Regions from separate parts of the Homo sapiens genome. Here region 1 is linked to region 2. The links come from fine-mapping of genetic effects on gene expression. A gene starts in region 2. The other region holds a variant in brackets. All regions are shown on one strand. Distances are from middle to middle. Region 1 overlaps RPGRIP1 (RPGR interacting protein 1). Region 2 holds the start of PARP2 (poly(ADP-ribose) polymerase 2).

What was found. PIP is the estimated chance that this variant, and not a neighbour inherited with it, causes the effect.
Region 1: its variant is fine-mapped to the expression of PARP2 in ovary (GTEx, PIP 0.97).

The regions. Positions count from the first base shown.
Region 1 is chr14:21,295,600-21,303,599 of GRCh38, reverse strand. RPGRIP1 (RPGR interacting protein 1) reads right to left here. Exons shown (of 25, transcript NM_020366.4): 4 at 2,363-2,634; 5 at 1,016-1,112; 6 at 57-269. Among named protein-coding and RNA genes, the nearest start is that of RPGRIP1, 20 kb to the right of the region's middle. The variant C/A (reference allele first, on the strand shown) is at 4,561.
Region 2 is chr14:20,334,688-20,350,741 of GRCh38, reverse strand. PARP2 (poly(ADP-ribose) polymerase 2) reads right to left here and starts at 7,107. Exons shown (of 16, transcript NM_001042618.2): 1 at 7,055-7,107; 2 at 5,655-5,810; 3 at 5,278-5,348; 4 at 3,829-3,879; 5 at 120-216. The coding sequence starts at 7,100. It also overlaps RPPH1. RefSeq lists enhancers at 7,025-7,194, 8,125-8,224.

The DNA.
Region 1 (8,000 bases), 960 kb before region 2:
ATCTCTTAGCTTTTTCAGTTCGTTTTGGTTTGAGGCATGGAGTGCCACACTCTTACCGAAGCTCTGCAGCCTTCTGAGCACACTCCAATGAGCTTCTCTGTTCAAAATTTTCATCTTTAGGCCACATTTTCTCAGGAGACTTGGGTGGCTCTTCCACTTGCATGGTATTGCTGGCCATGATGTGGGCACTGTTAGGCATGCATAGACCAATGGGTTTAGCCATACTTATGACACTGCTGAAAGAAATTATGCTGTTAGAACCAGAAACACTAAATACAAAAAGGATACTTAGAAACTGTTGTTACAGGAGTTTAGAATTGGGTTCTTACACATATAAAAAGAAATTAAGTGAATCAGTAACCTTGGTACATGTCGAGGAAAATCTTATAAAATACAGCTTTCAAATGTCAAACAAAACATAAAGGAATTATGGGCCAGGCGTGGTGGCTCACACCTGTAATCCCAGCACTTTGGGAGGCCAAGGCGAGCAGATCACAAGGTCAGGAGTTGGAGACAAGCCTGGCCAACATAGTGAAACCCTGTGTCCACTAAAAATACAAAAATTAGCTGGGCATGGTGGCACATGCCTGTAGTCCCAGCTACTTAGGAGGCTGAGGCAGGAGAATTGCTTGAACCTGGGAGGCAGGGGTTGCAGTGAACCAAGATCACGCTGCTGCACTCCAGCCTGGGCAACAGAGCAAGACTCCATCTCAAAAAAAAAAAAAAAAAAAAAACACAACAAAGGAATTATGACCTAAGGAAAAAAATATAAATGTAAATAGAGGGAATACCTTCAACTGAGAAATGGACCTTTATTTTCATTTCCTCAGAGAACAGAGAGACGCTTGTTTTCCACTTTTAAGCAATGAAGTTGGAATTTGACCTAGGGTCGACTTTCATCTTCCCTGATCATGCTGAAAAGACTCAAATCACCAACATTCATTTGTTCCCTAAATGATGTCTTTCTAATTAAAGTGGCAGGAATAACAACATGGGATAAATGAGAAGAACTCACAGTTCACTGGGTTTACTGGCTACTTCACCTCTGTTTTCATTTGTCGCATGCTCCTTAAACGATGGAGGGGCTGTGTAGCTCAGCCTGTCCCTTGGCCCTAAAAGTTTAGACAGAAGATGCAGACTCGGGCAACAGTACCCTCCGGAACACCAAGTACTGAAACTGGAACATGAAGGGCTGGGCATAGAGTCTTGAGACCTGGGTGAAACCCTTGTATGACAAATGGTCCCCGAGGAGCAGTTTTTTTTTTACTCTTGCAAAAAACTGCAACTAAAGTCAGCCAGACTATAGATCCTCAAGTGAGTAAGTACAAATAGGAAGAAAAAAGAAAGGTGGAAGCTTGTCCAGGGCAGAGACTGTGTGTCTAACTCTAACCATCTTTGTATCTAGTGCCCAGTACATAACAGGTGGCCAGCTATGCTGAACTGTTAAATGGAACTGAAATTTAAATTCATGCAAGTTTTCTACTTTCAGTTGTTTTTGCATGCGTTTGGTTGTCTGGAGTATGGAACTTGAAATTATAGGACCACACTAAGCAAAATAAGTGAGTACTTACTAATAAAATAAGAGTACTTAATGAAATGCTGTGTGTAGATTTCCTTTACCTAGGTTACTCATTCCTGATTTAGGGCCATGAGAATGAGGTGTCTACTCTAGAGATTCAACGTTGAGTTTTCTTTTTGGGGGTTTTGTTTTGTTTGTTTTTTGAGGCAGAGTGTCACTCTGTTGCCCAGGCTGGAGTTCAGTGGTGCCATCTGGGCTCACTGCAGCCTCCGCCTCCCAGGCTCAAGCGATCCTCCCACATCAGCTTCCCAAGTAGGTGGGACTGCAGGCATGTGCCACCAGGCTTGGCTAATTTTTTATTATTATTATTATTATTATTATTATTATTATTATTATTATTATTTTGAGACAGAGTCTCGCTCTGTCGCCAGGCTGGACTGCAGTGGTGCAATCTCAGCTCACTGCAACCTCCGCCTCCCGAGTTCAAGTGATTCTCCTGCCTCAATCTCTCGAATAACTGGGACTACAGGTGCGCGCCACCATGCCCAGCTAATTTTTGTATTTTTATTAGAGACGGGGTTTCACCATGTTGGACAAGGATGGTCTCCATCTCCTGACCTGTTGTCTGATTCTGCCCTCAGCGACACTCCATGGTGAATTTAGAATTTTGAATCTGATATCCCAACTCAGGAAATAAAGATTTTAGGGAGGCAGAAAGGAGGGAGTGAGAACAAAAGAACAAAATGGGGTGGTGGGCAGAAGAAGGCAGTGAGGAAAACGTGGCTGGCACATCAGTCCTTCCCAGTGTCTTAGCCCTGTAGGGGATGTAGCCTTAAATCTCACCCCTCTTGGGTTTCTCCGGCACCGGTGCACCGGCTGTGTGGAGCTGTCTGTGTCCCACTTGGACGCGAGGCTGGGCGCGGCGGGGGCTGGCAGGGCCGACGCAGTGGAAATGCCCTTGCAGTCGGTGCATCTGGGGGCGCTGGTGCATGGAGAGGCGCTGCCGCCATCCCGCCTTCTGCCCGCGCCTTGCGGTCTCCGAGAGCGGCGCCGCCTCCTCCGCGACCCGCAGGTCCCGGCCAGCAGCGGTCAACCGCAGCAAGGTGGTCCTCAGCCTGTGGACAAATAGAGCACGTGGCTTCTCCTTTCATGACAGTTATTATTTCTACGGGTTATTTGGGACATATAATCACGAATTGATCTATAATATGTATTCATCTACCGTGATCTATTAACCACACTTTAAAAAGATTAGCCTTCTGTCCCCAGTACACTGTAACTCTTTGAGGGCAGGGCCATTGTGATACCTGTCTTTATTTTATTGCAGTGATTACACCCTTATCTTAGTAAAAAAAAAAAAAAAAAAAAAAAAAAAGTTGAGCCACTACCCCAATAGTATTTGTGTGCATTTAAAAAAATTATATATAGACTTGTTTTTGTACTAATAAATTGTCATTATAAAACAAAATATGTATGTTTAAATGGGTGACAAATATAAATAACAATTTTAATATTTGCTTTTTCTATCCCACTTGTCTACACACCCCTGTATATGTGCTCCAAATTAAGGATAACTCCTTTATAACTTTTAGTAACAATTTTTATTTGTTATCTTGACCTAAAATCATGGTTTTTTTGCTACTATCTGATTCTATGCTCTCACTGTGCTATGGCCTGAATTGTGTCCCCACTCAAAATTCTTATGTTGAAGCCTTAACCCCCAGTGTGACTGTATCTGGACATTGGGTGTTCCGGAGGCTTTTTTTTTTTTTTTTGAGACGGACTTTTTCTCTTGTTTCCCAGGCTGGAGTGCAATGGCACGATCTCAGCTCACCACAACCTCTGCCTCCCAAGTTCAAGCGATTCTCCTGCCTCAGCCTCCTGAGTAGCTGGGATTACAGGCATGCGCCACCACGCCTAACCACAAAATACTAATTTTGTATTTTTAGTAGAGACAGGGTTTCTCCATGTTGGTCAGGCTGATCTCGAACTCCTGACCTTAAGTGATTCGCCCGCCTTGGCCTCCCAAAGTGTTGGGATTACATGCGTGAGCCACCGCGCCCGGCCTTTGGAGGTTATTAAGTTTAAATGAGTTCACAAGGGTGGGGCCCTAACTGGATAGGACTGTGGCCTTGTAACAAGAGATCTCCCTCTCCCACCTCCCAAGACACAGTGAGAAAGCAGCAGTCAGCAAGCTAGAAAGATGGCCCTTACCAGGATCCAACCACGCTGACACTTTGATCTCAGACTTCCAGCTTCAGAACTCTGAGAAAACCAATGTCTGTTGTTTCAGCCACCCAGTCCGTGGTATTTTGTTATGGCATCCTGAGCTGACTAAGACACACTGCCCGTCTGTTCTGACATTTACTAACTGTAGCTTTGGCCATGCCACTTAACCTTTCTGTGCTCAGTTTCCTCATTTATAAATAAAGATAAATAGAAAAAGATAAAAGCAGTAGATTGTTGTGAGGATTAATAAGCTTATATATAAATATATATGTAAAATGCTTAGAACAGTGGGGTTACACTGTAAGGGCTTCAGGTGTGAGCTATTATTATTACATATCATTATACCCAGATAAAGAAAACAAGGTGTAAAATAGCTATGTAACTTGCCCAAAGCCAGGGGCATAGAATCCAGATTAACCATTTAGCATCCATAATCTCAAGTACTCTTTGATTATCAACCAAGAAACTAGATTTTTTGGCCCATACAACCTTCTGACTTCACTCAAGTCACTAGATTCTCAAGTTCTCAACAATTAAAAAAAAAAAAATCGGCCCTTTGCGGTGGCTCACGCCTGTAATCCTAGCACTTTGCCGGGCTGAGGTGGGCGGATCACCTGAGGTCAGGAGTTCGAGACCAGCCTGACTAACATGGAGAAACCCTGTCTGTAATTAGCTGCACGTGGTGGCACATGCCTGTAATCCCAGCTACTTGGGAGGCTGAGGCAGGAGAATCGCTTGAATCTGAGAGGCGGAGGTTGCGGTGAGCCGAGATCACGCCATTGCACTCCAGCCTGGGCAACAAGAGCGAAACT[C/A]CCATCTCAAAAAAAAAAAATCACCAACTCTGAAGAGTGCTGATCCACAATGGAGGCCTGCATTCCTGCAGATTCTTTTTTTTTTTTTTTTTTTTTTTATGAGACAGAGTCTCACTCTGTTGCTCAGGCTGGAGCACAGTGGTGCGATCTCTGCTCACTAGAGCCTCAGCCTCCCGGGTTCAAGAGATTCTCCTGCCTCAGCCTCCCGAGTAGCTGGGATTACAGGCGCCCACCACCACACCCAGCTAATTTTTGTATTTTTAGTAGAGACGGGGTTTCACCATGTTGAACAGGCTGGTCTTGAACTCCGGACCTAGTGATCTACCCGCCTTGGCTTCCCAAAGTACTGGAATTACAGGCATGAGCCACCACGCCCGGCCAATCCTGCAGATTCTAAACGAAGATCTTAATCACTCCTGGGGGTTACAATGAGAAAGCAAAACACTGCCCTTGACATTAGGAAACTGGTCTGACACAACTGGTCCTCAGTGTTGTTTGAAGCTAGTCTGTGCTATCTCCATTTGTTTTTGTTTTCGTTTTGAGACCGAATCTCACTCTGTCACTCAGCCTGGAGTGCAGTGGCGCAATCCTTGCTTACTACAACCTCCGCCTCCTGGGTTCAAGCGATTCTCTTGCCTCAGCCTCCTGAGTAGCTGGGATTATAGGCGCCTGCCACCACGCCCGGATAATCTTTGTATTTTTAGAAGAGACGGGGTTTCACCACGTTGGCCAGGCTGGTCTCTGAACTCCTGACCTCAGGTGATCTGCCCACCTCAGCCTCCCAAAGTGTTGGAACTACAGGCATGAGCCACCGTGCCCAGCCACTATTCTTTTGGACACCTCACAGAACATCAACATGAAACAAGTTCACTCCAAAACCATGATAGAATGATACAAAACAAGTCCACTGCCTAATTTTGTCTGCTTACAGACAAAATTAGTGTCACTGCCACCCACAAAATACCAAACATCCTTCTCTCCAGGTTAATATGAGTGACTGCAACTTCTTTACCAATCATGGCTTCAGCCTTGCACTAGTTTACCCTCCCTGTAGATAAGATTTATTGATACTTGATTCCAGGAAGTTGAGGCTAAAGTGAGCTGAGACTGCACCACTGCACTCCAGCCTGTGTGCCAGAGTGAGACCCTATCTCAAAAAAAAGAAAGAAAGAAAGAAAGAAAGAAAGAAAGAAAGAAAGAAAGAATAATTTATTGAGATACCGAAACATAGAATTGTGCTTGCTTTCTGACAGCATGAAATCTGGAGCAAACTTCTGTTTCCTTGGATCCTCCCCCAAAATCACCCAATCAAACAAAGCTTAGATACTATAATAAGTTCTAACACATTTGCTGAGATGCCTTTAGTTCCCCTGGTGTGCATATTCTCTAGCTGTAATGAATAAGCCCAGCTTGCTCAACTGTTGGTATGTTCCTGGTGGTCCTTGGCTGGAAGGCATTGACACCAGTATCTTCAAAATGTGTCCTAGAGATAGACTCCAGACTTTGAGAACTCCCATTCTTCCCATCTGTTTACCTTCCCTCACCTCCGTCTCAGATTTCTTTCCAGGTCCCCATTTTCTAAAGAAAGAAATCTAAGATCACTGTATATAATAATATGTTTTGAAGTTAAGAGTTTTTCCCACTGGGACAGGCGCGGTGGCTCACACCTGTAATCCCAGCACTTTGGGAGGCCGAGGCAGGCGGATCACTTGAGGAAAGGAGTTCGAGACCAGCGTGGCCAACATGGTGAAACCCTGTCTCTACTAAAAATACAAAAATTAGTCAGGCATGGTGGCACATGCTTGTAATCCCAGTTACTTGGGAGGCTGAGGCAGGAGAATCACTTGAACCCGGGAGGCAGAGATTGCCGGTGAGCCGAGATTGCGCCACTGCACTCAAACCTGAGTGACACAGCAGGACTCTGTCTCAAAAACAAAACAAAACAAAACAAAACAAAAAGAGATTCCACCTCTGTTATGCACTAGGTATGATCTCAGGCAACTTATTTAACCTCTTTATGCTTCCTTTTCCTCTTAATAATACCTCTTCAGACTATTAAATGAATTAATACTTTTTTTTTTTTTTTTTAGATGGAGTCTTGCTCTTGTCGCCCAGGCTGGAGTGCAATGGCACAATTTCGGCTCACTGCAACCTCTGCCTCCTGGGTTCAAGTGATTCTGCTTCAGTCTCCCGAGTAGCTGGGATTTCAGGCGCCCACCACCACGCCCAGCTAATTTTTGTATTTTTAGTAGAGACAGGGTTTCATCATGTTGGTCAGGCTGGTCTTGAACTCCTGACCTCGTGATCCACCCGCCTTGGCCTCCCAAAGTACTGGGATTATAGGCGTGAGCCACTGTGGCTGGCTAATTAATACTATTTCTAATAAATTAACTGGGCACGATGGGTCATGCCTGTAATCCCAGTACTTTGGGCGGCCAAGATGGGGGGATCATTTGAGGTCAGGAGTTTGAGACCAGCCTGGCCAACATGGTGAAACCCCATCTCTACAAAAAATACAAATATTAAGGCCTGGCGTGTTGGCTAATGCCTGTAATCCCAGCACTTTGGGAGGCCAAGGTGGGTGGATCACCTGAGGTCAGGAGTTTGAGACTACCGTGGCCAACAGGGTGAAACCCCATCTCTACTAAAAAAAAAAAAAAATTAGCCAGGCATGGCTGGGCACAGTGGCTCACACCTGTAATCCTAGCGCTTTGGGAGGCCGAGGCAGGCTGATTGCCTGAGCTCAGGAGTTCGAGACCAGCCTGGGCAGCACGGCCAGTGGTGGCAGTGGGCACCTATAGTCCCAGCTACTCGGGAGGCTGAGGCAGGAGAATCGCTTGAATCCGGGAGGCGGAAGTTGCAGTGAGCCGAGATCGCACCACTGCACTCCAGCCTGGGCGACAGATGGAGACTCCGTCTCCAAAAAAAAAAAAAAAATTAGCTGGCCATGGTGGTGTGTGCCTGTAGTCACAGCTACTTGGGAGGCTGAGACAGGAGAGTTGCTTGAACCTGGGAGGTGGAGGTTGCAGTGAGCCGAGACTGCGCCACTGCACTCCAGCTTGGGCAACGGAGCGAGGTTTCATCTCAAAACAACAAAAAAAATTACTCTGACGTGGTGGTGCAAGCTTGTAATTCCAGCTACTCAGGAGGCTGAGGGAGGGGAATCGCTTGAACCCAGTAGGCAGAGGTTGCAGTGAGCCGAGATCACACCACTGCACTCCAGCCCAAACAGAGTGAGACTCTGTCTCAAAAATAAATAAAAATTGGCTGGCGTGGTGGCTCAAGCCTGTAATCCCAGCAATTTGGGAGGCCGAGGCAGGCGGATCACCTGAGGTCAAGAGTTCAAGACCAGCCTGACCAACATGGAGAAACCCCGTCTATACTAAAAATTAGCTGAGTGTGGTGGCGCATGCCTATAATCCCAGCTACTTGGGAGGCTG
Region 2 (16,054 bases):
CTCCCAGACTTCAGAGCCTCTACTGACCCAATTTAAACCCAGAGAATCCTTTGGCCACCCACTAAGCTGCTTCTGACTTTCTGAATGCCAACTCATAAAATCTCAATAAAAATCATTACCTCGGCCCCATCTCATCCAAACACTGAAGTTCCTCTGGGCATCATCTTCTAATAGCTGAATCAGATAGTACTTGTTGTTGTTGAACTGGAGATTGGTCTATGTTGAGTGAAAACAAAAACAAAAAAAAGGAGTTTTGCAAATGGAAATCACATAAACCAATGACTCATCCTTCGTCACAGGTGCCAGTTATTTCCATAAGGAAAAGGATAGCATCAGGCAAGAAAATTAGATTCCTGTAAGATTAAAGATATAAAGAAGAAATAGGGCTTATACATTAAACTTTGGATTCTTAGGAATTAAAGTGGGAGCCTAGAAGCTTCCTAAAACCCTCTATCCAACCTCAAATATCCTACATTGAATGGCTCCTCCAGTTTTTTCCTGCCTCAGCTCCCTATTTAGATATTTTCTAAGCTATATGTGTTTTCCAGCTCCCAATCCACTCCCAATAATTATTTCCCAAATGAAAACAATTTGGATGCTCCAAAGGTCTAAACCTGTTATGCTCAACTGTTAAATGACTTACTCCTTGACAGTTCTACTCACAGCTTTTGTTTGTCAGCTGCAGAAATTTGACAATGAGCTGAGAGCAGGGCAATAATGGGAGGGGACAAGGGATACGCAAAACCACTGCCACATCCGTCCCATACCTAACCTGACCTGACTTGGAGATACTGAGAGAGAATATGGCCAGTATCTAAAAAGAGGTATCTGTAAGTAAATCACTCAGAGTGAAGAGAGAGAAGTCCATGATAAGGCATAGCAGCTGGTGTTGTATGGCCGAGCCCTGGATATGGAGGCATTCTTTTTTGTTAAGCATGCTGCCCCTTCCTACCTCTATCTCCTGCTTGCTCACATTCTAAAGCCATTGTACGACCTTAGCCCACTGGTGAAAAAAAAAAGGTCATTAGATGTTAGAACAAAAAGGAGCCTAAGATATTTTCTTTTTTTGAGACAGAGTCTTGCTCTGTCGCCCAGGCTGGAGTGCAGTGGTGCAACCTCCGCTCATTGCCACCTCTGTGTCCTAGGTTCAAGCAATTTCTTGTGCCTCAGCCTCCCTAGTAGCTGGGATTACAGGCACACGCCACCATGCCAGACTAATTTTTTTTTGTATTTTTAGTAGACATGGAGTTTCAACATGTTGGCAAGGCTGGTCTTGAACCCCTAACTCAAGTGATCTGCCCGCCTTGGCCTCCCAAAGTGCTGGGATTTTAGGCATAAGCCACCATGCCCAGCTTGATATTTTCTTTTCCTTTAAAAAATTTTTTTGTAAATGTTTTTATGGTTTTTATTTTTTATTTTTTTGAGATAGGGTCTCCCTCTGTCACCCAGGCTGGAGTGCAATGGCTCAATCACAGCTCACTGTAGCCTCAACCTCCCAGGCTCAAGCAATCCTCCCACCTCAGCCTCCAAAGTAGCTGGCCCATGCCCGGTGTTTTTGTATTTTTTTGTAGAGACAAGGTTTCACCATGTTGCCCAGGCTGATCTTGAACTCACACCTGAAGTGATTCTCCAGCCTTGGCCTCCGAAAGTGCTAGGATGACAGGCATGAGCCACCACACCTGGCTGCCTTAAGGTATTTTCCTTCTTTTCTTTTTTTTTTTGAGAAGGAGTTTTGCTCTTGTTGCCCAGGGCTGGAGTACAATGGTACGATCTCGGCTCACCACAAACTCCGTCTCCCAGGTTCAAGCAATTCTCGTGCCTCAACCTCCCGAGTAGCTGGGATTACAGTCATATGCCACCACACCTGGCTAATTTTGTATTTTTAGTAGAGATGGGATTTCTCCACATTGGTCAGGCTGGTCTTGAACTCCCGACCTCAGGTGATCCGCCCGCCTCAGCCTCCCAAAGTGCTGGGATTACAGGCGTGAGCCACTGCACCTGGCTAACCTTAAGGTATTTTCTATCTGCTCGTGGTATTTTAAGTAGAAGAAATAGTAAGAAATAAATACTAATTGGTTGTTAAAATTATATATGTTGGATCAATAAATTCAAACATGAAGTCATATCCAGGAAATATATTAATGAGGCAAATGTATTATCTACTCAAAACCACAAAGGTAAACAAGAGAAAAAGGTTGATTAAAAAGAAAGCTGAGCTTGGGGGCAGATGCCTGTAGTCCCAGCTACTTGGGAGGCTGAGGTTGGAGGATCACACGAGGTCACAAGTTCAAGGCCAGCCTGAGCAACATAGCAAGACACTGTCTCTAAAATTAAAAAAAAAAAAACCCAAAATTTTTTAAAAAGGAAAAATTAATAAATTTAACTACAGAAAAAATTTAAAACTTCAATATGGGCAAAAAGTGTACTATAAGGAAAACCAAAAGGTAAATGACAAATCTGGAAAACACAAGTGGTTTGTATTACAGACAAAAGGCTATTCTCCATATTATATAAAGTTCCTCGAAACCAGTAAGAAAAGGACCAATAACTTTAGAAAATGTGCAAAACAGCTTGTCCCAGTGGCTCATCCCTGTAATCCCAGTGCCTCATGAGGACAAGGCAGGAGGATCATTTGAGGCCAAGAATTCAAGACCACCTATCCAACATAGCGAGATTCTCATCTCCATAAAAAATTTAAAAATTAGTCAGGCTTTGTGGCATGCGCCTGAAGTCCGAGCTACTCAGGAAGCTTAGGTGGGAGGATTGCTGGAGCCCAGAAGTTCAAGGTTGCAGTGGGCTATGACTGTACAAACTGCACTCCAGCCTGGGTGACAGAACAAGATCCTGTCTGTTTAAAAAAAAAAAAAAAATGTGCAAAAGGATATGAACAGAGAGTTAACAATTTCAATAAATGATATGAAATTTGCAAAAAAAAATCTTCTCACAGAGGACTCTGCTATCTGATAAGAGTGTGCTAGGGCTGAGTACTCAGGTGTTTAACCACTAATGGCTAATATTAATATAAAGGACTTGCCGGGCGCAGTGGCTCATGCCTGTAATACCAACACTTTGGGAGGGTGAGGTGGGTGGATCACCTGAGGTCAGGGGTTCAAGACCAGCCTGGCCAACATGGTGAAACCCCATCTCTACTAAAAATACCAAAAAATTAGCCAGACACTGCACCTGTAGTCCCAGCTACTTGGGAGGCTGAGGCTGGAGAATTGCTTGAACCCAGGAGGCAGAGATTGCAGTGAGCCGAGATTGCACCACTGCATTCCAGCCTGGGTGACAGAGCAAGACTCTGTCTCAAAAAAAAAAAAAAAAAAAAAAAAAAAAAAAAAAATATATATATATATATATATATATATATATATATATATATATACACACACACATATGAAGGACTTTAGGCAAGGCGTGGTGGCTTACACCTGGTAATCCCAGCATTTTGGGAGGCTGAGGTGGGTGGATCACTTGAAGTCACGAGTTCGAGACCAGACCCTGGCTAACGTGGCGAAACCTTGTCTCTACTAAAAATACAAAAAATTAGCTGGGAGTGGTGGTGCACGCCTGTAACCCCAGCTACTTGGGAGGCTGAGGCAGGAGAATTGCTTGAACCTGGGAGGCAGAGGTTACAGTAAGCCGAGATTGTGCCACTGTATTCCAGCCTGAGAGATGAAGTGAGACTCCATTTCAAAAAGAAAAAACAAAATTTAAAAAAAAAAAAAAAAGGGACTTTAAAGATCTGAACACTGTGATGCTATCATCAATAATTATCAAGAAGATGGTCTCATAAATATAATGGTGCCACCTCTTCTTGCCTCTTACCTGATTTAGCATGACATCATAGACATCATTTCCTTCACAATACACATGAGCCTAGAAAGGGAGAGAGAGAAAAAATCAACATTAGTATAGGTTCAGCCCTGACATCCTAAATGAGGCTCTAAATTTTCTTATGGCTCAAGTCATCATTCTACAGCAACATCAACATTCATCTCCCAAGGAAAGAATTGCAAACCTATGTTCTACCAGTAACCTGGGTGTAACCTTACTATAAATGAAAACATGCTTCCTTTTTTTTAACTATACAAAAGATTCTGAGTTAGGCTGCGCATGGTGGCTCATGCCTGCAATCCCAGCATTTCGGGAGGCTAAGGTGGGCAGATCACTTGAGGTCAGGCATTCGAGACCAGCTTGGCCAACATGGTGAAGCCCCGTCTCTACTAAAAATATAAAAATTAGCCCAGGCTGGGCGTGGTGGTGGGCACCTGTAATCACAGCTACTTGGGAGGCTGAGGCAAGAGAATTACTTGAACCTAGGAAGTGGAGGATGCAGTGAGCTGAGATCACACCACTGCACTCCAGCCTGGGTGACCGAGTGAGACTCTATCTCAAAAAAAAAAAAAAAAAAAAAAAAGATTCTAACTGAGTTAAAGAAAACTTATTCCAGAGGTAGCCTTCTTTTTTCCCCATTCATCAGTAACTCATGCCATTCCAGGGTACAGTTTCTCATTAGAACAAGAAAACAGTTTTCCCTTAACAATGATACCATTTTCTGGTTTAAAAAGAGAATGAGGTGTAGAAGGCTGATGGCAACCACAAAAGGTACGCATGTGATATAGTTTGTATATTTGTCTCCTTCCAAATCTCATGCTGAATTGTAATCCTCAGTACTGGAGGTGGGGCCTGGTGGGAAGTGATTCAATCATGGAAGTGGATTTCTCATGAATGGTTTAGCACCACTGTCTTGCTGCTGTCCTCTTGATAGTGAGTGAATTCACACAAGATTTGGTAGTTTAAAAGCGTGTGACACCTCCCCATTCTCTCTTTCTCTCTCTGTGACACCTTCTCCAATCTCTCTCTCTCCCTTTCTCTCTGTCTCTCTCTCTCTCCCCTGCTTTTGCCATGTGACGTGCCTATTCCCGCTTCACCTTCTGCCATGAGTAAAAGTTTCCTAAGGTCTCCTGAGGAGCAGATACTGCTATGCTTCCTGTACAGCCTCTAGGAACCTCTTTTCTTATAAAATACCTAGTCTCAGGTATTTCTTTACAGCAATGCAAGAATGGTCTAACACACCATGTTAAAAAACACCCTGATTATTAACCCCAAGCCCTACCACTCCTATCTCTTGCCATTAGAGAAAACTACTCACTCATCATATTTTGGAGAGGATTCCTAAAATGAGTACTAACAGCATCCCAGACAGGAGTCCTTATAACAAAGGATGCTCTCTGAGATATCCATGGACTGAAGATCGGTTCCAGAGTCTCTTACCTTCCCCACCTTGGCTGTACACTCTGGGTCCACAGGAGCTTTGCCCTTTAACAGCAAGGCCTTCACAGATTCTGAGGAAAGACAGATAGGTACTACTTTATGGGAATCAAAAACAGCTGTTGTGGTAAAACAGAAACTTGTCAGGATTAACTTTGCCCGCCCAACCAATCCTGGTCTTTCCTTAGACCCCAATCCATCTCAAATACATGAAAATGAAGATTCAAGGCAGTAGATTAGTGCTGTGGTATGCCCAAAGGATAGAGAAATTAATTATTCCCTGAAAGAAGGACGAAATAGGAGTTGAAATAACAAGATATCATCCCCAGATCCACTCCTACCAGAGACCCTTTTGCTGGCCCATGACCTTCCTGGCATACCATCTTGCTTGTCTTCTGTCCTGTCCTTATTAGCTTTTCCTCCAGCCACAGGCATCTTTTTCGACTCCTGTCTCTGGCATCTACGAGTTTTCTTGGCAGGGGAAGAGTCTTCTGGAGCCGTGTTGCCATTATTAACTCTTTTGCTTTCATTTAATGCTACAGAATTTGGAAATTAGCAAAGAATGAGTACACACCCGAATACGTGTAGATTTTAAAGATTGAAAAAAATCTTTTAAAGAAATGGTTTAAGATAATTTTCTCTCTTTTTTTGTTTTGAGGTGGAGTCTCACTCTCTCGCCCAGGCTGGACTGCAGTGGTGCGATCTTGGCTCACTGCAACCTCCGCCTCCTGGGTTCAAGTGATTCTCGTGCCTCAGCCTCCTGAGTAGCTGGGATTACAGGCGTGCACCACCATGCCCAGTTAATTTTTGTATTTTTAGTAGAGACAGGGTTTCACCATGTTGGCCAGGCTGGTCTCGAACTCGTGACCTCAAGTGATCTGCCCTCCTCGGCCTCCCAAGGGATTACAGGCGTGAGCCACCTCACCCCGCCGGTTTAAGATAATTTTCTAAGTTTACAGAGGCAATAACAACTGTCCCACACTACTTTTGTGTAACAGTCTGTGTAATTCTTCCTAAATTGCTATTCTAGCCAAATGAAATAAAACAAAATAAAAGGGAGTCCCAGGAGTCTTGTAAGCTCATAGATTGAGGCCTGCTTATCTGTTTTACTTGTGTCCCAATGTCCCCCAAATACCCACCTCATACATGAGGCCGTATGGGATAAAGGTTAGTTAAGTGCTCAAGGGTCTGTGCCTAATTTAGAGCCTAGCTCTGCTGCTTTTCTCTGTGGAAACTTGGAGAAGTATTTGATCTCTTCCTACTTCACTTACTCCAATATTAGAATATTGTACAATACTGTACTTCTAGAGAAGTACAATAGAACCTAATTTATAGGGTGCACCTATGCATTTAAGAACATTATACACATAATACCGTATCTCAATAGGTCTAAGACTCGCATTTTACTCTCTGGAACTGGGATGCATCTTACAATGGATGACATAAGCAGTGAATCACAGTTCACCATTTTCAGTGCTTATCCTTTGTTGTGTATAAAATAATGGTGTGCCTTACAATTACTTTTTGTAAATTGGATGACATTAGGTATTAACAACAGTACTGGCACATTAGTTGTTACAGCTCCGCAAGGCTTTATGCACAATTATGTAATCCCCAAAGCTCTGAAAACCGAAATTTACAAAATTTAGCACCCCAACTGGTTTGGTAGCCAAGTGCAGGTTATAGGGAGCTGGAAGGGGAAGGGGGTCACAGTAGGTGGCATCGTTCCTTTCTGACTGCCCGCCCCCCGCATGCCGTCCCGCGATATTGAGCTCCGAACCTCTCGCCCTGCCGCCGCCGGTGCTCCGTCGCCGCCGCGCCGCCATGGAATTCGAACGCTGACGTCATCAACCCGCTCCAAGGAATCGCGGGCCCAGTGTCACTAGGCGGGAACACCCAGCGCGCGTGCGCCCTGGCAGGAAGATGGCTGTGAGGGACAGGGGAGTGGCGCCCTGCAATATTTGCATGTCGCTATGTGTTCTGGGAAATCACCATAAACGTGAAATGTCTTTGGATTTGGGAATCTTATAAGTTCTGTATGAGACCACTTTTTCCCATAGGGCGGAGGGAAGCTCATCAGTGGGGCCACGAGCTGAGTGCGTCCTGTCACTCCACTCCCATGTCCCTTGGGAAGGTCTGAGACTAGGGCCAGAGGCGGCCCTAACAGGGCTCTCCCTGAGCTTCGGGGAGGTGAGTTCCCAGAGAACGGGGCTCCGCGCGAGGTCAGACTGGGCAGGAGATGCCGTGGACCCCGCCCTTCGGGGAGGGGCCCGGCGGATGCCTCCTTTGCCGGAGCTTGGAACAGACTCACGGCCAGCGAAGTGAGTTCAATGGCTGAGGTGAGGTACCCCGCAGGGGACCTCATAACCCAATTCAGACTACTCTCCTCCGCCCATTTTTGGAAAAAAAAAAAAAAAAAAAAAACAAAACGAAACCGGGCCGGGCGCGGTGGTTCACGCCTATAATCCCAGCACTTTGGGAGGCCGAGGCGGGCGGATCACAAGGTCAGGAGGTCGAGACCATCCAGGCTAACACGGTGAAACCCCCCCCCATCTCTACTAAAAAAAAAAAATACAAAAAATTAGCCATTAGCCGGGCGTGGTGGCGGGCGCCTATAATCCCAGCTACTTGGGAGGCTGAAGCAGAATGGCGTGAACCCGGGAGGCGGAGCTTGCAGTGAGCCGAGATCGCGCCACTGCATTCCAGCCTGGGCGACAGAGCGAGTCTCAAAAAAAAAAAAACCGAGTGGAATGTGAAAAGCTCCGTGAAACTGCAGAAACCCTTTGGGAACAGAGGGAACCATGGGGCAGGAAGCCCACGAAAATTCTAATTGGTCTTCTGGTTCTTGGTGACATCAGGTGAGGGGCGCCCAAATGTTTGGCTTCATGAGAATCACCGAGTATGGGGACTGCATACTTAAGCAAATTCCCCACCCCAGACCCTCCGATTCAATAAGCCTGTATTAACAAAATCACTGGGTAATCCTGGTTTTGGCACTAATATCATTTAGAAACATATTGTTAGGATAGCATAGTATCTGTTATAGAGCAACCTGAGCAAAATAGCGAAACCTCGTCTCTATTACAAAAAAAAAAAAAAAAAAAGTGAAAAATTAGCCAGGCGTGGTCGCGGGCGCCTGTAATCCCAGCTACTTGGGAGGCTGAGGCACGAGAGTCGCTTGAACCCGGGAGGCGGAGGTTGCAGTGAGCCGAGATCCCGCCACTGAACTCCAGCCTGGGTGACAGAGTGAGACTCCGTCTGAAAAAAACAAAGAAAAAAAAATTGATACATTTTAATTTTTGTTCATCAAAAGATGTAAAGTTTAGAAAGAAAAAACCCAAAATCTCATTATTTGCATGTAATTTGATTATGAATATTTTAAAAGCTAGAAGAAACTACAGGATAAAAATTTTACCTTAATACAAAGCCTAGCAAGACTGATAGAAAATAGCGTGTGAAAATAAATTCCATGCTTATAAAAGAGCTTCAAACAACTATAAATAAAATTTTTGGATAAGGTAGCATTTACAATAACACCAAAGCATATCAAGTAGTTGGAAATAAATCTAACAAAATGTAAGTGCTCAATAAATGTTGTTGGATAGGATTGCTTAACCTGTTTCAGCGGTACAAAGCCTGTTACATCTGACTTAATTATGACACAAATAAATTAGACTAGGTCTAAAAGGAAATACTTTGGAGATAGGAAAAATATAAGCCTTTATGAAATGAAAATTTATTAAAAATAGCTAATACTTAGTAGAACTTTCTTGTGTACTAGAGGCTGAGCTAATGCTTTACATGCATAACCTCATTTAATCTTCATAAGAATAATAGCCAGAATTTATTTAGTTCTTACTATGCTATGAGCTTTACATACATTATTTAATTCTCACAACAACCTCATGAGGCATATGTTATTATCTCCATTTATAGTTGAGGAAACTGAGCTTTAGAAAAATTTAATTTATTCAAGATCACACAGTGTATTGCTAGGGCTGCTATAACTACATACATTGTCGTAATTCTGGCGGCTAGAGGCCCAAGGTAAAGGTCTTGACATGGCTGATTTCTTCTAAGGCCTGCCTCCCTCTCTCCTTGGCTTGTAGATGGATGCTGTCTTTCCTCTCTGTGCATCTATGTCCTAATCTCCTTTATTTTATTTATTTATTTATTTTTTGAGACAGAGTCTTGCTCTGTTGCCCAGGCTGGAGTGCAGTGGCAAGATCTCGGCTCACTGCAACCTCCACCTCCCAGGTTCTTGAGCGATTCTCCTGCCTCAGTCCCCTGAGTAGCTGGGACTATAGGCGTGGGCTACCACACCTGGCTAATTTTTGTATTTTTATTAGAGACAGGGTTTCACCATGTTGGCCAGGCTGGTCTCAAACTCCTGACCTCAAGTGATCCACCCGCCTCAGCCTCCCAAAATGCTGGGATTATAGGCGTGAGCCACGGTGCCTGGCCCTTAATCTCCTTTTCTTATAAGGACATCAGTGATATTGGATTATTCCCAACCCGTATGACCTTATTTTATCTTAATTACCCCTTTACATGTCCTATCTCCAAATACAGGCAGATTCTGAGATAATGAGAGTTCTTCAAATACATACATTTTGAGGTGACACAATTCAGCTCATAATATACAGTTCCTAAAAGGCAGGGCCAGATCTGGGTGACTCCAAATTATGTTGTTATCTACTAGGCTAATGTATTCTGTTTCATGACAGTAGTTACCATCCCACACACATTTTTAAAAATGTATTTTTAAAGTTTTTATTGATTCTTTTTCTTTTTTAGTTATTATGGTGGTCAGAGTGAGAATTACTGAAAATATATTGTGAAGATATAACTTCTTTATAGTCAAATACAGAACAAGTGTAACTAAAATAGTACTGAAGCATGTCACCAATAACTGGAAGAAACCGGCTGGGTGCGGTGGCTCATGCCTGTAATCCCACCTCTTTGGGAGGCCAAGGCAGGCGGATCACCTGAGGTGAGGAGTTCGAGACCAGCCTGGCCAACATGGTGAAACCCCCTCTCTAGCACAAAATTAGCTGGGCATGGTGGTGGGTGCCTGTAATCCTAGCTACTCAGGAGGCTGAGGCAGGAGAAGCTTGAACTGGGGAGGCGGAGGTTGCAGTGAGCCAAGATCGCACCACTGCACTCCAGCCTAGGTGACGAGAGCGAGACTCTGTCTGAAAAACAAAAACAAAAAAAGCCTGGAAGAAACCAACAAATTTATTTTCATAATTAAAACCAAAACCTCTATAGATAAGTGGATGAAAGATATTAATAAACAGTTTGCATTTGATAAATAAGTGCATGGAAAAGATATTCAGGCTCACATAGTATGAAAAATACAAATTAATATTCGACAGGACAACTGGCCTACTCTCTTCATACTATTATGTAAAAAAAAAATTGTTAGGACTGTTTTAGAGTAAAAGAGACATTTGAAGCCTAACAGCCAAATGCAATGTTTGGATGCTGGTTTGAACAAGCCAGCAATAAATGGGGATATGTGGATATGGACTGGAAATTGGATGATTTTAGGGAATTATTTATTAGATATTATAATGGTATTCTAGTTAGGTTTAAAATAATGATATTCTAGTTATGATTTTAAAATGTCCTTTAGGGTAGGTGTGGGGGCTCATGCCTGTAATCTCAGCAGTCAGAACTTCAGGCAGGAGGATTGCTTGAGCCCAGGAGTTCAAGACCAGCCTGGTCAACATGGCGAAACCCGACTCTACAAAAAGTGCAAAAATTAGCTGTATAATTTATCACTTGAGCCTGAGAGGTCAAGGCTGCTGTGAGCTGTGATCATGCCACTGTACTCCAGCCTGGGTGATAGAGTAAGACCCTTTCTCAAAAGGAAAAAAAAAGTTCTTTAAAAAAAGCATGCTATAGTATTTTCTGATAAGACATCACGTTATCTAGAATTACTTTATTTTTACAGATGGAGTGCAGTGGTGTGATCTCAGCTCACTGCAACCTCTGCCTCCGGGTTTCAAGCAATTCCCCTGCTTCACTCCAGTGTGGGCAATAGGGTAAGACCCTGTCTAAAAAATAAGATAAATTTAAAAATAAATAAATAAAATGAAAGTTAGATCATGTTAGATTTTTGTTCCAGTGGCTCCCCATCTCAAATGCTGTGGCTTGACCAGGCTCTATATGATCTGCTTCTTACCCCAGTGCTTTGATTTCATCTGCTACTATTTTTCCCTTTGCTTACTCCTGTTAGGCACTCTGGCCTCTTTCCACTTTGTCTCAAACATACCAGTCACTCTTCTCCCTACAGGCTTCTGTTCTCTCTACCTGGTCTACTCTTCTTCCAGCTAACAAGATTGATCCCTGACTTTCTTCAGGTCTTTGTTCTTAGTAGCAGTGGTGCCTTCCTTGATATAAATAACATCACTCCCATTATCACTTGTAGCCTCTTACTCTGCTTTATTTTTTTCCAGAGTACTAATTACAACTTAACATATATTTGTTTAATTTTTAGGAGATCTGACTCTCTCCAATAGACTGTAAGCTCCAAGTGAGCCAGGGCTTTGTGTATTTTGTTTCCTGCTCTGTAACCAATGCCTGGAACAGTATCTAGCTTTCAATGATATTTGTTGAATGAGATACTAAATAAGACAGGGTGTCAAGGAGCAAGGGGTATGACTTGAAAAAGAGGGTGGGTTCTGAAGGAAAGGTGAGACTTTATTGAACTTCACTGTCTTGAGGATTTCTCTTTCCTACCTTATTCAAAGAGGTGGATCTTGAGAGTTGTTTAAAAAAGAAATTCAGAATCAAAAAGATCAGTAATTGAAGGAAACTAGTAAGATTTTAAAAGCTTTGAAATTCCACAAGTATGGTTTATTATATTGCCTGATGTTATAAATATGTTTCCAAACTTATTTATATTTATTTATATATTATATTGCCTGATGTTATAAACAAATTTCCAAATTTATTATTTGCCAATTTTCCAAAAGTGATCAGCAAAGCTGCGGATCAGGACCACCATTTAAAGGAATTTGCATACATGTCTTCAGGAATAGCTAGGAAAGGGATGTTGATGAGAACCTTCTACTTTGCTACAACTTTGGAAGGAAAGGATCCTCAAGAGATATTAATTTAAAATGGAGAGAGTTCTGAGACGTATTAAAAGGGGGAAAGTAGTAGCTCAGAGTTGGGGTAGGAGGTGTTGAACATGTAGAAGGCCCAATCTCTGGAGTCCTAGGTTCAACTTGGGGGATAGGCATTCAATGTGGTGTCCATTTAGCCTTTGAAGCCTGTCCTTTGCTGCCTTAGGGGGTTGGGGTCTCCTACTTTTCTCTTCTCCCCTCTAAATTGAAACCTACTCTTGGATCTCTACCCTTATTTTGTGGAGAGGTACTGTTTTATTTTTTAAACACGAACACATTCTTCTCGTAAAACATTGCAGATATTCAAAACCAAAAAGCTCCTCCCTTAATTCCCTCAATCCTTCTCCTTGGAGTAACTTGTTAGCAGTTTGGTGTGTCTCTTTCCAGACTATTTTCTTTTCATTTACTTGCAAAAATGTGCACATACAGAATTATTCTATTTTGCATTTTTTGTGGGGGGGGGGAGAAGTGTTACATAAATGTGAGCATATTACATGGTGTTATTCTTGGCTATTTTCACTTCATATGCATTGGAGATGTTTTCATGTCAGTACATGCAGATTTACTTCATTCTGTTTAACTACTGGGTAGTATCTCATAGAATGGTTGTATCATTTAAAAAATGTTGTGGGTACATAATAGGTGTATAAATTTATGGGGTATATGAGATATTTATTTATTTACTTATTTATTTGAGACTGAGTCTCGCTCTGTCACCCAGGCTGGAGTGCAATGGTGCGATCTCATCTCACTGCAACCTCCGCCTCCGTGGTTCAAGCGATTCTCCTGCCTCAGCCTCCTGAGTAGCTGGGATTACAGGCGCACACCACCATGCCCGGCTAATTTTTGTATATTTTAGTAGAGATAGGGTTTCACCATGTTGGTCATGCTGGTCTTGAACTCTTGACCTCGTGATCCACCCGCCTTGGCCTCCCAAAGTGCTGGGATTACAGGCGTGAGCCGCCGCACCCAGCACATGAGATGTTTTATGTGCAATGTGAAATAAACACATCCTGGAGAATGGGGTATCCATCCCCTGAAACCTTTATCCATGGACAGTCTTTCAGTTATTTTAAAATGTACAATTAAGTCATTATTGACTATAGTCACCCTATTGTGCTATCAAATAGTAGGTTTTATTCATTCTTTCTAACGATTTTTTTGTACCCATTAACCACCCCTGCCGCCAAGGAATAGTTGTATCATGATTTAATGATCTTTGAATAGACATGGGTGTTTCTAATTGTTTTGCTGTCATAACCAGTGCTACAAGGAACATCCTTCCTTGAACATGCCCATTTGAGCACAATAGTTCTCCAGGGTGGATAACCAAATGTAAACTTGCAAAGGAGATGCTTAATTTTTAATTACAGACAAATGGCCATTCTCAATTCTTCATTTTGAATAAATTATAAATGAAATTTTTAGAGTGCTGCCTTTTCCAAGAGTTTACTCACTTCAGCAGTGATAACATCCCTTTTTTCCTTTTTTTAAATTTATTTTTTATTTCAATAGGTTTTTGGGGAGCAGGTGGTGTTTGGTTACTGGTGATTTCTGAGATTTTAGTGCGCCCATCACCAGAGCAGTGTACACTGTACTCAGCATGTAGTCCTTATCCCTCAACCCCACCACCCTTTCAGTGATAACATCCTTAAACGATAGTCATTCAGTTGGTGTTCTCCAAAGGGTGAGCCTCAAATCTACCGGAAGTACCTGAGGGTGCTTATTAAAATACATATTCCTGAGTCCCACCCACTGAATTAGAATCTCTGAACGTGTGTCCCAGGAATCTACTTTTTTTTGAAACAGGGTCTCACTCTGTTGCCCAGGCTAGAGTGCAGTGGTGTAAACACAGCTCACTACAACCTCTACCTTCTGGGCTCATGCTCTCTTCCCGACTCAGCCTACCTTAGTAGCTGGGACTATAGAGGCATCACCACTCTTGGCAATTTTTTATTTTTATTGTTTGTAGAGACAGTTGTTTTACCATGCTGCCCAGGCTGCCCTCAAACTCTTGGGCTCAAGCGCTCCTTCTGCCTCCACCTACCAAGTATTGGGACTACAGATGTGACCTACCACACCTGGCCCCAGGAATCTATCGACTTTTAAACAATTTCAAAGTTATTTTACAGAGCACAAAATTTTGATGTTACCAGCTGAAGAGAATTTCATCATGGATTATTATAAGTATTAAAGCCTGGAATACAGAATATCATAAAGAAATGTTAGATATTTAATGGGAATTTGAAAAGAATATTGTACTTTCTAAGGTTTTCTGAAATCACACAATATAGGAAGCAGTGCAATGTGGTGGTTGAGTTTGGGCTGTCAAGTTGGATGGCTGCTGTCTCAGTTTGTTTTCTGTTGCTTATAACAGAATACCTGAAACTGGGTCACTTATTTATTAGTTTGTTTTTTAATTAATTTATTTTTTGGATACAAAGTCTTGCTCTGTCTCCCAGGCTGGAGTATAGCGGTACTCCAAACCTACACCTCATTAGTTCAAGCGATTCTCCTGCCTCGGCCTCCCAAGTAGCTGGGATTACAGGTGTGCACCACCATGCCTGGCTAATTTTTTGTATTTTTAGTAGAGATGGGGTTTCGACATGTTGGCCAGGCTGGTCTCGAACTCCTGGCTTCAAGAGATCCACCTGCTTCGGCCTCCCAAAGTGCTAGGATTACAGGTCTAAGCCATCACACCAAGCCTGGTTTATTTATTTATTTAGTTAGTTTTTGAGACAGGGCCTCACTCTGTCACTCAGGCTGGACTGCAGTGGCACAATCTTGGTTCACTGCAACCTCCGCCTCCCGGGTTCAAGTGATCGATCCTCCCACCTCAGCTTCCTGAGTAGCTGGGACTACAAGCCCATACCACCATGCTCAGCTAATTTTTGTATTTTTAGTAGAGACGAGGTTTTGCCATGTTGGCTAGGCTGTGGGGTAATTTATTTTAAAAAAGAAATTTATTTTTTGCAGTTATGGATGCTGTGAAGTCCAAGGTTAAGGACTGCCTCTGGGTTGCATCTGAACTCCTTCTTGCTGGAGGGGACTCGCTGTGATGTTCCAAGGCGTGGCAGGAAATCACATGGCCAGGATGCTGAGACTGCTAACATGCTATCCTTAAGTCTCTTTGCCTTTTCTTTAAAGCCACTAGTTCCCCTCCCATGATAACCTATTAATCCATGAATAGATTAATTTATTTATGAGGGCAGAACCCTCATGATCCAGTCACCTCTTGAAGGCCCCACTTCTAATGAGGATTAAGTTTCAGCCACTTTAGGGATTAAGTTTCAACATGAATTTTGTAAAAGGTGAAAGATTTATGCGATATGAAGAGAAACTAGAGTGACAACATGAATTTTGAAGGGGACAGTCAAACCATAGCAACTGGGATCTGAATCCTGACTTTACCACTTGCTAAATAGACAAATTCCTTAATCTCTATAACTCTGTTTCCTTTTTTTTTTTTTTTTTTTTGGTGAAATAGTTATAATGAAAGTGCTTACATTCTTGGGTTAATGTGAAGATTAAACAAGGTAATGAATATTACATTTCTTGAATATTTATAGTAAACATTCAAGAAATGTTTTGACTCTAGAAGTTACAATAAATCAATTATGAAATAACAAATTAGCATTTGATGC